Linked DNA regions of Homo sapiens. The protein of the gene in region 2 purifies or fractionates together with the protein of the main gene of each other region. This does not show direct contact. Each region holds a gene or a part of one and is shown on either strand. Other genes may lie near its edges.

Region 1 (7,036 bases), on a different chromosome or scaffold from region 2:
TTACCTCTTGATTATCTAGGAATACGCTGTCCATTTAAACATGCCTTAGGCCAGGTGCAGTGGCTCACACCTGTAATCCCATTACTCTGGGAGGCCATGGTAAGAGGACTGCTTGATCTCAGGAGTTCAAGACCAGCCTAAGCAACATAGCAAGACCTCACCTCTGAAAAATAAAATAATTTTTTTTTTTTTTTGAGACAGAGTCTCTCTCTGTCGTCCAGGCTGGAGTGCGGTGGTGCAATCTCAGCTCGCTGCAAGCTCCACCTCCTGGGTTCAGACTATTCTCCTGCCTCAGCCTCCCAAGTAGCTGGGACTACAGGCGCCCGCCACCACACCCAGTTAACTTTTTGTATTTTTAGTAGAGACGGGGTTTCACCATGTTAGCCAGGATGGTCTCAATCTCCTGACCTTGTGATCCGCCTGCCTCGTCCTCCCAAAGTGCTGGGATTACAGGCGTGAGCCACTGTGCCCAGCCAAAATAAAATAAAATTTTAAAAGTTAGCCAAGCCACCACACCTGGCATTTTTAAATTTTTTTATTATTATTTTTCTTGAGACAGGGTCTCACTCTTATTGCCCAGGCTGTAGTGCAGTGGCACAATCTTGGCTCACTGCAACCTCTGCTTCCCAGGCTCGGGTGATCCTCCCACCTCAGTCCTGCCGAGTAGCTGGGACTACAGGTGTGCACCACCACACCTGGCTAATGTTTGTATTTTTTTTTTTTTGTAGAGACGGGGATCTTACCATGTTGCCCAGGCTGGTCTCAAACTCCTGGGGTCAAGCAATCTGCCTGCCTTGGCCTGCCAAAGTGCTGGGATTACAGGTGTGAGTCACCATGCCTGGCCCTCCCCCGCCTCTTATCCAGCTTCGTACCCTCTGCATCATGCATAGGGCCTAGCATAAGGCAAAGCCTCCCAAAACACTGCAGACATTAATGACTTTAAAAGGCCCTTCCAACAAGTGGCTCCTCAGATTCTATGATTTGGGCTCAAATCTTCCAAAACTTCACCTAGCTGGATCCCAACCATGAGGAAGTGTGAACCCAGGGAGGGAGGATGCTGTATCTGCATGTGATAGAGACATACACACAGACGACATACCATGGTCCTGAGCTAGATCTGTTCTTTGAACTTAGCATGATTTTATATTTCAGATACGACTTCTTTTTCTCTTTATTCTGAGTAATTAAAAATTGGCAAAATAGGCCGGGCATGGTGGCTCATGCCTGTAATCCCAGCACTTTGGGAGGCCAAGGCAGGCGGACAACTTGAGGTCAGGAGTTCGAGACCAGCCTGGCCAACGTGGTGAAACCCCATCTTTCCTAAAAATACAAAAAGTAGCCGGGTGTGGTGGTGGGCGCCTGTAATCCCAGCTACTCGGTGGGGCTGAGGCAGGAGGATCACCTGAGCCAGGGAAGCAGAGGTTGCAGTGAGCCGAGATTGCACCACTGTACTCCAGCCTGGGTGAGAGGGAGACTCCATTAAAAAAAAAAAATGGCAAAATGACTGCAGGAAAAAGAACCTGAAAACAGGATGTAAATATACCAGATACATAATATGGGTATTACTGGCAGGGGGATGCCTGTGGAAATACCAACAATTCTGTCACTTAGTACATTTCAGATTTCTTGAGTGTATATGGATGGCCTTCCGTGTCCTGTTCAGTACATTTCAGATTTCTTAACATGAGTTCATGCAAAGGTTTGTGACTTTACCTTTTCATGAGCCTTCCTCTGCTCTGGGTCGAATGGGTGCAAGACTTGCAGCCTACAGATTTCACACACCTCCCCGTGCAGGTAGACACAGGCATCCCCAAACCGGCACTCCCCAGCAGCTGCGTAGGGGCACAGCTGCTGCTCGTTGCTGTAGGAGCTGCTGGCCTCCACGTCATCAAGGCCACTCCTGATGGCATCCAGGTAGGAATGCGGCTTCATCTCGGGGCTGGGCTGGGGGTCGCTGCAGCTGCCTGGATTACTCACCATGCTCGGCTGGGTCTTCCTTTCAGCCATGCCAGAGAGATCTGAAAACAACACACAGCACACATGCACATGAAAATGGCCCCATTTTTCTGGTATGCCGTTAGCCAAAGCCTAACATATTAAGCTACTCTGACCTAAGAATTCCACTCTTGAGAACATATGGCAAAAAAAACACACCGAAGGGGAAAAATAAAAGGAATAGTATAAAATGTTCATAGTGACATTACTTATAATTACTTAAAAAAACAAAAAACAAAAAACAAAAATGGCAAGACAGGGAAATAGCAAAACAATAGGATATACTTATACAAAAGAACACTAAAGCCGTTTAAAATGGCAAATATGGAAATGTTAACACATGGACCAGTTAACACTAAAACAAACAAAAAAACAGTGAGAGCACTAGAACACAGTGTTTCCTTCATACCAGCAAAGGTAAAATCATTTTAAGTGAACTAGAATAGATGTCTAGAGCAAATCTGTGGGTCCTGAGGCCAGTGTAAACTGCCCCATGGTCACCCCTTCTCACGCCAGGAGCTGCTGCCTTCCCACTGCACACCTCCGAGCTTGTTTAGAGGTCACGTATTCTCACAGGATTACTCATTTGCTGAGGACAGAATCTGCCTACCTCATGGTAGCCAATTCCAAGAACTAGAAATCTCTTCACCTGGTGAGGACCAGCCAATAAAAACAACTTTTATGGCCAGGTGCAGTGGCTCTTGCCTGTAATCCCAGCACTTTGGGAGGCCGAGGCGGGCGGATCATGAGACCAAGAGTTTGAGACCAGCCTGGCCAACATAGTGAAACACTGTCTCTACTAAAAATACAAAAATTAGCTGGGCATGGTGGTGGGCACCTGTATTCCCAGCTACTCAGAAGGCTGAGGCAAGAGAATCCCTTGAACCCGGGAGGTGGAGATCATGCCACTGCACTGCAGCCTAGGCGACAGAGCGAGTCTCCATCTCCAAAAAAAAAACAAAAACAAAACAAACAAAAAACACAACAAAAAAACTTTTACAATTTGTAGCTTTCTTCCTCATCAAACCCTGTTTTAAGGCACAGACCATGCCCCAAACCCTAGTGTGCTATTCTTTTCCCAAAGGTGCAATCTAAACTGTCAAACACTGTCAGCATAAAAACTAAGACCATTCACTGGCCTAAAAGTCAAACAGTGAAACATGCTCTTTAGCAAAATATTTAGTTTTCTTTTTTTTTTTTTTTTTTTTGAGAGGGAGTCTCACTCTTGTCATCCAGGCTGGAGTGCAGTGGCGTGATCTCAGCTCACTACAATCTTTGCCTCCCGGGTTCAAGAAATTCTCCTGCCTCAGCCTCCCAAGTAGCTGGGATTACAGACACCTGCCACTACACCCGGCTAATTTTTGTATTTTTAGTAGAGACAGGGTTTCTACTAAACCATGTTGGCCAGGCTGGTCTCGAACTCCTGACCTCAGGTGATCCACCCGCCTCAGCCTCCCAAAGTGTTGGGGTTATAGGTGTGAGCCACTTTACCCAGACAAAATATTTACGTTTGAAATGAAGAGCTTGATGCTTCTCACCAGCTGGACAACCACCATATGAAGATGGAAGTTACATGTTGACAAAAAGATTGTGTTTTTATGTTTTACCAGGCCAGTCTTGGAGCTCAACCCAGCCTTGGGCACGAGGGCGAATGTATCATTTGAATGATCTGCAGCCACATGGAGCCTCTTCAGAACAGTTCTGAAGTCTCTCCGCGCAGACAATCTGGAGGTGTATTAGGTTAGGAGTCCTCTTGACAAGAGGAGGCTAGAAAGGAGCACCAAGCATTAACAAGAGTGCTATGCAAAAAGACGCAACAAAAGGCTTCCGCTTACTCACTTCGGTCTCTAAGAACCAATGTTCTCTTTTCACGCTTTCCGGGTTCATGTGAGTTAGTTTTCACAATGGATGCAGTGACCTCGGAAGGAGGGTGAGGACTGTGGAAAGCTGGGGAGGGCACACTGTGGGCCATGGTGCCCACAGCACCTCCAGCTGCAGCAGAGGGCCTCGTGTGGTCATATCTAAACAAAACACACAGCAGATGCATTACAGACATGCCACCCACACACATCTCCCACACTCCCCAGATGCCAATGGCCCTCCTTCTGCTGCACTTGTTGAGGTGAAGAAGGCGGCCATCTTTTCCAATATTTAAACTCTAACAGGATTATCGATTATTAACAGATGCTTGGCAATTCATTGTGAGGGGGACATTTGCTATCTATCACCTATGCTTAAGTGTCTCTGTGGGACTTGAGTGGGACAGACACACAGCACCAGACCACACAGAGAACCTGAAAGTTCCAAACAGATGTTGAGCTAAAATCTCCTGATGCCTGACTGACCCAGTATTCTTTTGAGCAGGAGTCCCCAAAATGCTGACAAGGGCCAATGATCTCTCCCTGACTGTCTCTCTTGGCACTCATTGACAGGGGAAGACCAACGTGGGCCTACTTCCATCATCTCCCACTGCACTGCAGAGAAAAAGGAGGGAAGGAAGCTTTGCAGTCTAGAAAGAAAAGATCGGCTCTTTGCTACAAAAGCATGAACAAGTTTCCGGAATTGTGTACAATTTTATAACTATATATTCATAAGAATAAGGCTGAAAAGTAGTTTTAAAAAATGAAAATTAGGCCAGGCACGGTGGCTCACGCCTGTAATTCCAGCACTTTGGGAAGCTGAGGCGGGAGGATCACGAGGTCAGGAGTTAGAGACCAGCCTGACCAACATGGTGAAACCCCATCTCTACTAAAAATACAAAAAAAAAAAAAATCAGCCAGGCGTAGTGGCAGATGCCTGTAATCTCAGCTACTTGGGAGGCTGAGGCAGGAGAACCCTGGAGGCGGAGGTTGCAGAGAACTGAGATCGCACCACTGCCCTCCAGCCTGGGCAACAGTGAGAGACTCTATCTCAAAAAAAAAAAGAAAAGAAAATTAGTTTTAGGGTACTGAAACTGAGGTTTTAAACTTATTTGCCATACTTTTTGTGATGTTGCCATATTACTTTTACATTAAAATTTCCCCCTTATCAAGACCCATTCTCCAAATGAAATCAGTGTCACAGCTGGAATCTGTTGCAGAGTCCTTGCCTGCACCGAGTTCCATAGGCACAGTAGCCCTTCTGGTAGTACTTGCAGATGGTGGACGGTTTGCTGTTTGCCAAGTCATGTGAGAATAGGCACTGACTTCCTTCCCGACACACACCATGCATAAAATACCTGCAGAGACAAGCACAGGCATACAACTTTTAGAAGCACATTTTGCTTTATAAAATCAGCTTATTCTTGAACTTAGCATACAAACATTTACCAGGCATATATTATGTATAAAGGCTCTATTAGGCACTGGAGAGAGATCTATATATTTCCTTGATTCTACAACAGTGATTTCAGAGGCACTACAACTGATTCAATGACAGCTTTTCTGAAAGAAAAACAAATGATCCCATATATTTCTATGTGAAGATATATCTTCCTGATTTGAGATATGTTCAATGTGAGCCACATAATTGAGAAAACACTCTGTGAAAAACTGTTCTCTCTGTTCTCAAGGAGCTTAAAGGGCATGACTAACGAAACCAGAAGATCTGGGCTCAAGACCCAGCTCTGCCACTTAAGAACATGTCACAAAACCAACTTCCCTGGGCCTTGCTACCTTTCCCTATAAAATGAAGATTATACTACCCACTTAACTGGTCGTGGTGAGGATCAAATACCATAGTGTGGTATCAAAAGATATACACAGATGCTCCTTGACTAATGATGGAGTTACATCCCAATAAAGCCACTGTTTTTTGTTTTTTGTTTTGAGATGGAGTCTCTCTGTCACCCAGGCTGAAGTGCAATGGCACAGTCTCAGCTCACTGCAACCTCTGCCTTCCGGGTTCAAGCGATTCTCCTAGCTCAGCCTGGGCTACCTTACTTATGCTTAGAACACTTACATCAGCCTACAGTTGGGCCAAATCATCTAACACAAAATCTATTTTACAATAAAGTGTAGAATAATCTCATGCAATTTATTGAACACCGTACTGAAAGTGAGAAACAGAAAGGTTGTATGGGTACTTGTAGTTTTTAATGAAAGCTGTTTCTCATACATTGTTTCAGATGTTTCAGAATATCAGATGTATCACATGTTCTGTATCAGAATATTCCACTGAGATATCAGATCCTGGCCTTGAAGAATAAGTGGTACAGGAATACCTGGGAGGCTAACTCTGTCCAGACAGGGTAGAGAGACCTGAGTGAATACTCAAACAGTAGAGACCCTAGATGAACATGTCTTGATATTAAAGATAAACTAGGCTGGGTGTGGTGGCTCACACCTGTAATCCTAGTACTTTGGGAGGCCAAGGCGGGCGCATCACCTGAGGTCGGGGGTTCCAGACCAGTCTGACCAACATGGAGAAACCCCGTCTCTACTAAAAAAAATACAAAATTAGTCAGGAGTGGAGGTGCATGCCTGTAATCCCAGCTACTTGGGAGGCTGAGGCAGGAGAATCGCTTGAACTCAGGAGGTGGAGGTTGCGGTGAGCCGAGATTGCGCCATTGCACTCCAGCCTGGGTGACAAGAGCAAAAACTCTGTCTCAAAAAAAAAAAAAAAAAAAAAAAGATAAACTAGCCAGGGCAACAAAGGGAGACCCTAAAATTTAAAAATTAGCCTAGCATGGTGGTATGCACCTGTGGTTCAGCTACTCAGGAGAGTGAGACAGGAGGATTGCTTAAACCCAGGAGTTCAAGGCTGCAGTAGCCATGATTGTGCCACTGCACTCTAGCCTGGGTGACAGCAAGATCCTGTCTCACAAAAGAAAAAAAAAAAGTAAACTAGTGTTAGAGTAGAAGTATTTTAGACACACCCTAATAAGGCTTAAAAAAAAAAAACACAAGCTGATAGCAAGTATATAACTTACTGTCAGCCAAAACAAACTTTAAAGGAAGACAATACAATCCAAATGCTCAGAAACTCACAATGCTTGGCATCCAATCATAAATTACTAGATATGCCAAAAAGCAGAAAATAATGTGACCTATAACCAGGAGAA
Region 2 (7,036 bases):
AAAATGCCCATAATATGATGTTGAAAAGGATAAGACATAATACTGTATAAACAGTATAATCACAACTAGTAATATGAATATGCATAAAAAATGTACATTAGTAAGTTAACAGTGATTATCTCTGGCTGATAAATTACAGGTGATTTAAATTTTATTTATGCTTTTTTATACTTTCTAAATTTCTACAATGAGCAGATATTATAATCAGAAAAATATTTTTAAATTTTTTTCAGTGTCTATAAGGGTAGATCTGCATTTATCAAGAAATCTAGATATTAGGTAAAAAGGACCTTTATAGAATACCCAGTCTAATACTCGAAGTAGATCCACTATTATATAATTAAAAGCTTATGACTAAAAATCCATTAAACATTTCCCATTCCCTGAAAGTACTTTATGTTCTTGCTGTTCTGTGCTCTAGAAATGTCTTTCATCTCTGCTTACTGAAATCTTAATCCTACTTTCAAGGAACTTTGTATTTGCTCCTTCCTTTCAAGAAGACTTTCTTAATCATCCAAAGCAAACATAAGCGATTTCTTTCATTTGGAAGCCTCAAAAGCATTCTTTGGCCGGTGTGGTGGCTCACGCCTGTAATCCCAGCACTTTGGGAGGCTGAGGCGGGCGGATCATGAGGTCAGAAGATCGAGACCATCCTGGCTAACATGGTGAAATCCCGTCTCTACTAAAAATACAAAAAAGCTGGGCGTGGTGGTGGGTGCCTGTAGTCCCAGCTATTCGGGAGACTGAGGCAGGAGAATGGCGTGAACCCGGGAGGCGGAGCTTGCAGTGAGCTGAGATGGCACCACTGCACTCCAGCCTGGGTGACAGAGTGAGACTCTGCCTCAAAAAAAAAAAAAAAAAAAAAAAAAGAATGCTTTTGTTTTTGAGACTGCAACCTCTCCTGGGTTCAAGTGATTCTCCTGCCTCAGCCTCCTGAGTAGTTAGGATTACAGGCGTGTGCCACCATGCCTGGCTAATTTTTGTATTTTTAGTAGAGACCGGGTTTCACCATGTTGGTCAGGCTGGTCTTAAACTCCTGACCTTGTGATCCGCCTGCCTCAGCCTCCCGAAGTGCTGGGATTACAGGCGTGAGCCACTGCACCCAGCCCTCAAAAGCATTCTTGCTCCTGGTCCCTGGCAACCACTCTGTCTGCTTTCTATCACTACAAATGAGACTTGTCTTTTCCAGAGTTTCATACAAATGGAATCACATGGTCTACACTATTTTTTTTTTTTTGGTCTGGTTTCTCTCCCTCAGTGTAATATTCATTAACAGGCAGATGATAAACAAATTATATCCATACAATGGGTTACCATTCAGTATAAAGAAGGCATGAACTCCTGATACATGTTAAGTCAGCTATGGGTGGGTTGTCCCACATTCTAACCTATGGAAGGGGCCCTGGGCAGTTAGCAAGGAGCAGGGACCTTCCAGCCCTGAGGGAAGTTCCACAGTTCTTTGGACTCAGTTATCCTTTCTCCATCAGCTCTCATCCATGGTGATGGTGGGCCACCTCTCACACAAGGACAGACTACTTCCAAGAGGTCCCACTAAATTCAAATAGCATTACAAGAACTAAAAGATGAAAGAAATTAGCTTGCACAAGAGTCTAGTTATTCAGGAAGCACATATTTAAGAAAGGGGTGGGGTGTTGGGACTGTCAACCATTCACTAAGTGTAGGGAGACATTACTCTCATATCCTTATACAGAGTAGAAACCATCTGAGAAATTGGAAATATTAAAATTATAAATGTGAATATCTTATTTTAAAATAAAATTCTTAAGAACTTTTTAATGGGTGTAGAAACATCATAACTTTATTTACAAAGATAATGAACTTGCCACAGTCGGGACCATAGATCTTTGGAGACAGGTGGGTATATATCTTCCAAAGGCATTTCTGTTTAAGACAAGGAACATACTGTGTTCTTCAGTCGCAAAACGATACATTACATTCTAAATGTGCATTCATATAACTGTTCAAAGTAATTTCTTTTTACATACAGATAACCTTAAATACTTAAACTTATGTAATAGTTTGCCATTTTCAAAACTAGCACTACCAAAGTTAAAAACTTTACCCTAAAAAGCTTTTAAAAAGCATAACTATTTCTGCTTTTCTGACCAAGGAACACAGAGAAAACTATTTCAAGACCCTGACTCTTAAGTGATGCTATTTTGGGAATGTGTGTATCATAATTCTTGATAGAAAATTTTTGTTTTGCTTTCCAAATCTAAAGTAAAATATCCTCTGCAAAAAAGCAATAGGTAAGACACTTCCCTCAAGAAAACTCTCCCATACTCACCAAAGCTACTTTAGTTGATATATTTAGACTTTTCAGTTCATTTACCCTGTTCCTCCATTGATTTATTAAACGTTGGACAGAATTTAGCTGAAAACGGAAGACAGAAAAATAACAGTTCAATATTGTATGTTTAAGTTAGTTTCTTCAATAAAAACTTCACATACTTCTTTGCCAAAATCACAAAAGGTTTATGTAACAGTTTTATGGCCCATGACTTGCAAAATTTGCATTGACTTGGCCTATTTGTCAAAGATATGCCAGCTCCAGTTCCCTCTCCCGTTCAACTCCTTGTATCATCTGGTTAGTATCACAAGTACCTGGCAGCACGTAGTTAGTTATATTTGGATGGGCGGTGAATACATGTACTAGTTGAAATGCATGATCATGACTGTAGAAACAGAAAAATACAGCATTTAAACTGCTTCCTTCAGGTACTCAACTTATTCTAGTCAAGATTTTTAATTTTTTTTGATATTTGATATATGAGGATGTTAATCTGTATTACAGACTGTATCTTATTTAACTTTGTTTTTCTAGCATTCATCACTGGATTGGTACCTAACAGATGTTCAATAAATATCTGTCAAATGATAAAAGGGTTTCATTTCTGGGATTGACTGTTGGGTAATTTATAATAAAAATAGTAATATTCCTAATTATTAAAGTAAAAATATATTATCATTTTAATAACCAACCAAATTCAATGAAAATAATATAGAAAAGAAAAATAGCCTACTCCTGAAAAAAGATCATAGACCTCATCGGTTTTGCCAAAACACAAGCCACGATAAAGAAAGCAGTAATTAAGAGCTCATCTGTTATTGCAGTAGATTAATAGGAAACAAACTTACATAACTCTGTAAGTTATTGCTGGTTAAGAAGTTATGGTATTCAAGCCTCAATTCCTCTGGTGAAATGTCTGTAAAACCTGAAGTGAGGAATCAATCGGAATCTTTAAAATAAATGCCAATAATTTTGATAGTAAAGCTAGAGGTGCTAAACAAGAAAATATCTAATGTTGATTAGAAAATTTTCATAACCATGAGGAAGAAACTTAAAGCCTACACTCTACTTAATGTTTAATAAAGTGTAAAATTACAGTAAAATATAGTTGGTTATTCTGATCTTTAAATGGGGAAGATTTTCTAAAGATAAGTGGCGTAGAATGAACAACAAACACAGGAGAAAGATTTGACTACATTTATATTCAAACTTTTATTTTAAAAATTCTGCCAGAAACTATACTAAGCAAAATTACAAGGCAAATGGTACACTAGGAAAATTGCAATTTTAACATATATGACAAGAGAAGAACTAATGCCCTAATGTACAAATAGCTCTTACAAATAAATGAGAAAAGTAAATGAATTTGGGCAAAGATAATGAACAGGCAATTCACACACAAAAAAAATCAAATAGTAAATAAATGAAATAAAGTTAAATGCAACTTAAAATAGAGATAAAATGCTTTACTTATCAGACTGGCAGAAATTTTAAAAGCTGGTATTTACTGTTGTTCCAAATGTGGTGAAATGTATCATTTCCTAAATTACCGTTAAGGGAATTAAAATGGTACAAGTTTTCTGGGAGGGATAATTGTTAATAAGCATCACAAGCCTGAAAAACATTCATATCCTGTGACTTATAATACAATTTATAGGATTTAACCTTGGGAAATAGTTATATATGTAAACAAAGGTTGCTATGTATAAGGGTGTTCATTCTAATATTTTTAGTACCAGAGACAAACTGAAAGCAAAAATTAGAATATAAAACTAGGGCCGGGCACGGTGGCTCACGCCTGTAGTTGCAGCACTTTGGGAGGCTGAGGCGGATGGATCACGAGGTCAGGAAATTGAGACCATCCTGGCTAACATGGTGAAACCCCCTCTCTACTAAAAATACAAAAAATTAGCCGGGTGTGGTGGCATGAGCCTGTAATCCCAGCTACTCGGGAGGCTGAGGCAGGAGAATTGCTTGAACTTGGGAGGCAGAGGTTGCAGTGAGCCAAGACTGCGCCACTGCACTCCAGCCTGGGCAACAAAGCGAGACTCCGTCTCAAAACAAAAACAAAAACAAAAGCAAAAACAAAAAAAACTGGATTACAGCCGGGCGCGGTGGCTCACGCCTGTAGTCCCAGCACTTTGGGAGACCAAGGCCGGTGGATCACCTGAGGCCAGAAGTTCAAGACCAGCCGGGCCAACACGGCGAAACCCTGTTTCTACTAAAAATACCAAAATTAGCTCGGCGTGGTGGCATATGCCTATAATCCGAGCTACTCGGGAGACTGAGACTGGAGAATCGCTTGAACCCGGAAGGCCAGCCGAGGCTGTAGTGAGCTGAGATGGCGCCACTGCACTCCAGCCTGGGCAACAAAGAGCGAAACTCTGTCTCAAAAAAACAAAACAAAACAAAAAACAAAGAAAAACTAGATTATGATCCTAATCATATATATGTATACGTATATATGTATAGGTGAGAGGTGACAGCTTGCTGGCAGCCCTCACATTCCTCACTCGCTCTGGGTACCTCCTCTACCTGGGCTCCCACTTTGGTGGCACTTGAGGAGACCTTCAGCCCACCGCTGCACTGTGGGAGCCCCTTTCTGGGCTGGCCAAGGCCTGAGCTGGCTCCCTCAGCTTGCAGGGAGGTGTGGAGGGAGAGGCGCGAGTGGCAACCAGAGCTACCCAGGGCCCTTGCTGGCCAGCTGGAGTTCCGAGTGGGCGTGGGCTTGGTGGGCCCCACACTCAGAGCTGCCGGCTGGCCCTGCCGGGCAATGAGAAGCTTAGCACCCGGGCCAGCGGCTGCGGAGGGTGTGCTGGGTCCTCAGCAGTGCCGGCCCACCGGCGCTGCGCTGGATTTCTTGCCGGGTCTTAGCTGCCTCCCTGCGGGGCAGGGCTCGGGACCTGCAGCCCGCCATGCCTGAGCCTCCCCCTCACCTCCGTGCGCTCCTGAGCAGCCTGAGCCTCCACGAGGAGCGCCACCCCCTGCTCCACCGGCACCCAGTCCCATCGACCACCCAAGGGCTGAGGAGTGTGGGCACACACCGCGGGACTGGCGGGTAGCTCCACCTGTGGCCCTGGTGTGGAATCCACTGGGTGAGGCCAGCTGGGCTCCTGAGTCTGGTGGGGACTTGGAGAACCTTTATGTCTAGCTAGGGGATTGTAAATACACCAATCAGCACTCTGTGTCTAGCTCAAGGTTTGTAAACACACCAATCAGCACCCTGTGTGTAGGTCAGGGTTTGTAAATACACCAATCAACACTGTATCTAGCTACTCTGGTTGGGACTTGGAGAACCTTTGTGTCCACACTCTGTATCTAGCTAATCTAGTGGGGACTTGGAGAACCTTTGTGTCTAGCTCAGGGATTGTAAACGCACCAATCAGCACCCTGTCAAAACAGACCACTTGGCTCTCTGTAAAATGAACCAATCAGCACGATGTGGGTGGGGCCAGATAAGAGAATAAAAGCAGGCTGCCCCAGCCAGCAGTGGCAACCCGCTCAGCTCCTCTTCCACACTGTGGAAGCTTCGTTCTTTTGCTGTTTGCAATAAATCTTGCTGTTGCTCACTCTTTGGGTCCACATTGCCTTTATGAGCTGTAACACTCACCGCGAAGGTCTTCAGCCTCACTCCTGAAGCCAGCGAGACCACGAACCCACTGGGAGGAACAAACAACTCCAGACGGGCCGCCTTAAGAGCCGTAACACTCACCGCGAAGGTCCACAGCTTCACTCCTGAGCCAGCGAGACCACGGACCCCACCAGAAGGAATAAACTCCGAACACATCTGAACATCAGAAGGAACAAACTCCGGACACGATGTCTTTAAGAACTGTAACACTCACCGCGAGGGTCCGTGGCTTCATTCTTGAAGTCAGTGAGACCAAGAACCCACCAATTCCGGACACATAGGTATACATATATACACACATAGAACAACTTATACATCCCTGTACAAGTGGACCCTTGCAGTTCTGTTCAAAGGTCAACTGTACACACAGCTGTACAGGGTCCACTTGTACAGGGGCCACTTGTACAGGGATTTTCTTCCGCCTCTGCCACTCCTGAGACAGCAAGACCACACCCACCTATCCCTCTGCTACTCAACATAAAGACAATAAGGATGAAGACTTTTATGATGATCCACTTCCACTATGTGAATGGTCAATATATTTTCTTATCCTTATGATTTTCTTTTTCTTTTTTTTTTTTTTTTTGAGATGAAGTCTTGCTCTGTTGCCCAGGCTGGAGTGCAGTGGCATCATCTCGGCTTACTGCAACCTCGGCCTCCTGGGTTCAGGCAATTCTCCTGCCTCAGCCTCCACAGTAGTTGGGATTACAGGCATGCACCACCAAGCCCGGCTAATTTTTTTTGTATTTTTAGTAGAGATGGGGTTTCACCACATTGGCCAGGTTGGTCTCGAACTCCTGACCTTGTGATCCACCCGCCTCAGCCTCCCAAAGTGCCGAGATTACAGGCGTGAGCCACCGCGCCTGATCCGTTATGATTTTCTTAACATTTTCTTTTCTCTTACAGTACGTTATTAGTAGTTAAGCTTTTGGGGAGTCAAAGCTTATACGTGGATTTTTGACTGCACAGAGGATCAGTGCCGCTAAACTTTATGTTGTTCAAGGGTCAATTGTATACATAAACAAGAAATATGTTTGTGTGTGTATATGTTTCGAAAGAAATATACTAAAATGTAGTAGTTACCTCTGTGATAT

What was found. The genes of interacting proteins can lie anywhere in the genome.
Region 1: the proteins of NUP42 (region 2) and MKRN2 purify together in Homo sapiens (affinity purification with mass spectrometry; 2 studies listed by BioGRID and IntAct, with this or other methods). This does not show direct contact.

What each region holds. Positions count from the first base shown.
Region 1 is NC_000003.12:12,567,051-12,574,086, reverse strand, and holds part of MKRN2 (E3 ubiquitin-protein ligase makorin-2), read right to left. Parts: intron 5,213-7,036; coding exon 5,084-5,212; intron 4,017-5,083; coding exon 3,835-4,016; intron 2,019-3,834; coding exon 1,714-2,018; intron 1-1,713. UniProt on the Homo sapiens protein: E3 ubiquitin ligase catalyzing the covalent attachment of ubiquitin moieties onto substrate proteins.
Region 2 is NC_000007.14:23,192,039-23,199,074, reverse strand, and holds part of NUP42 (nucleoporin NUP42), read right to left. Parts: intron 3,237-7,036; coding exon 3,160-3,236; intron 2,396-3,159; coding exon 2,309-2,395; intron 1,903-2,308; coding exon of another isoform or gene 1,828-1,902; intron 1-1,827.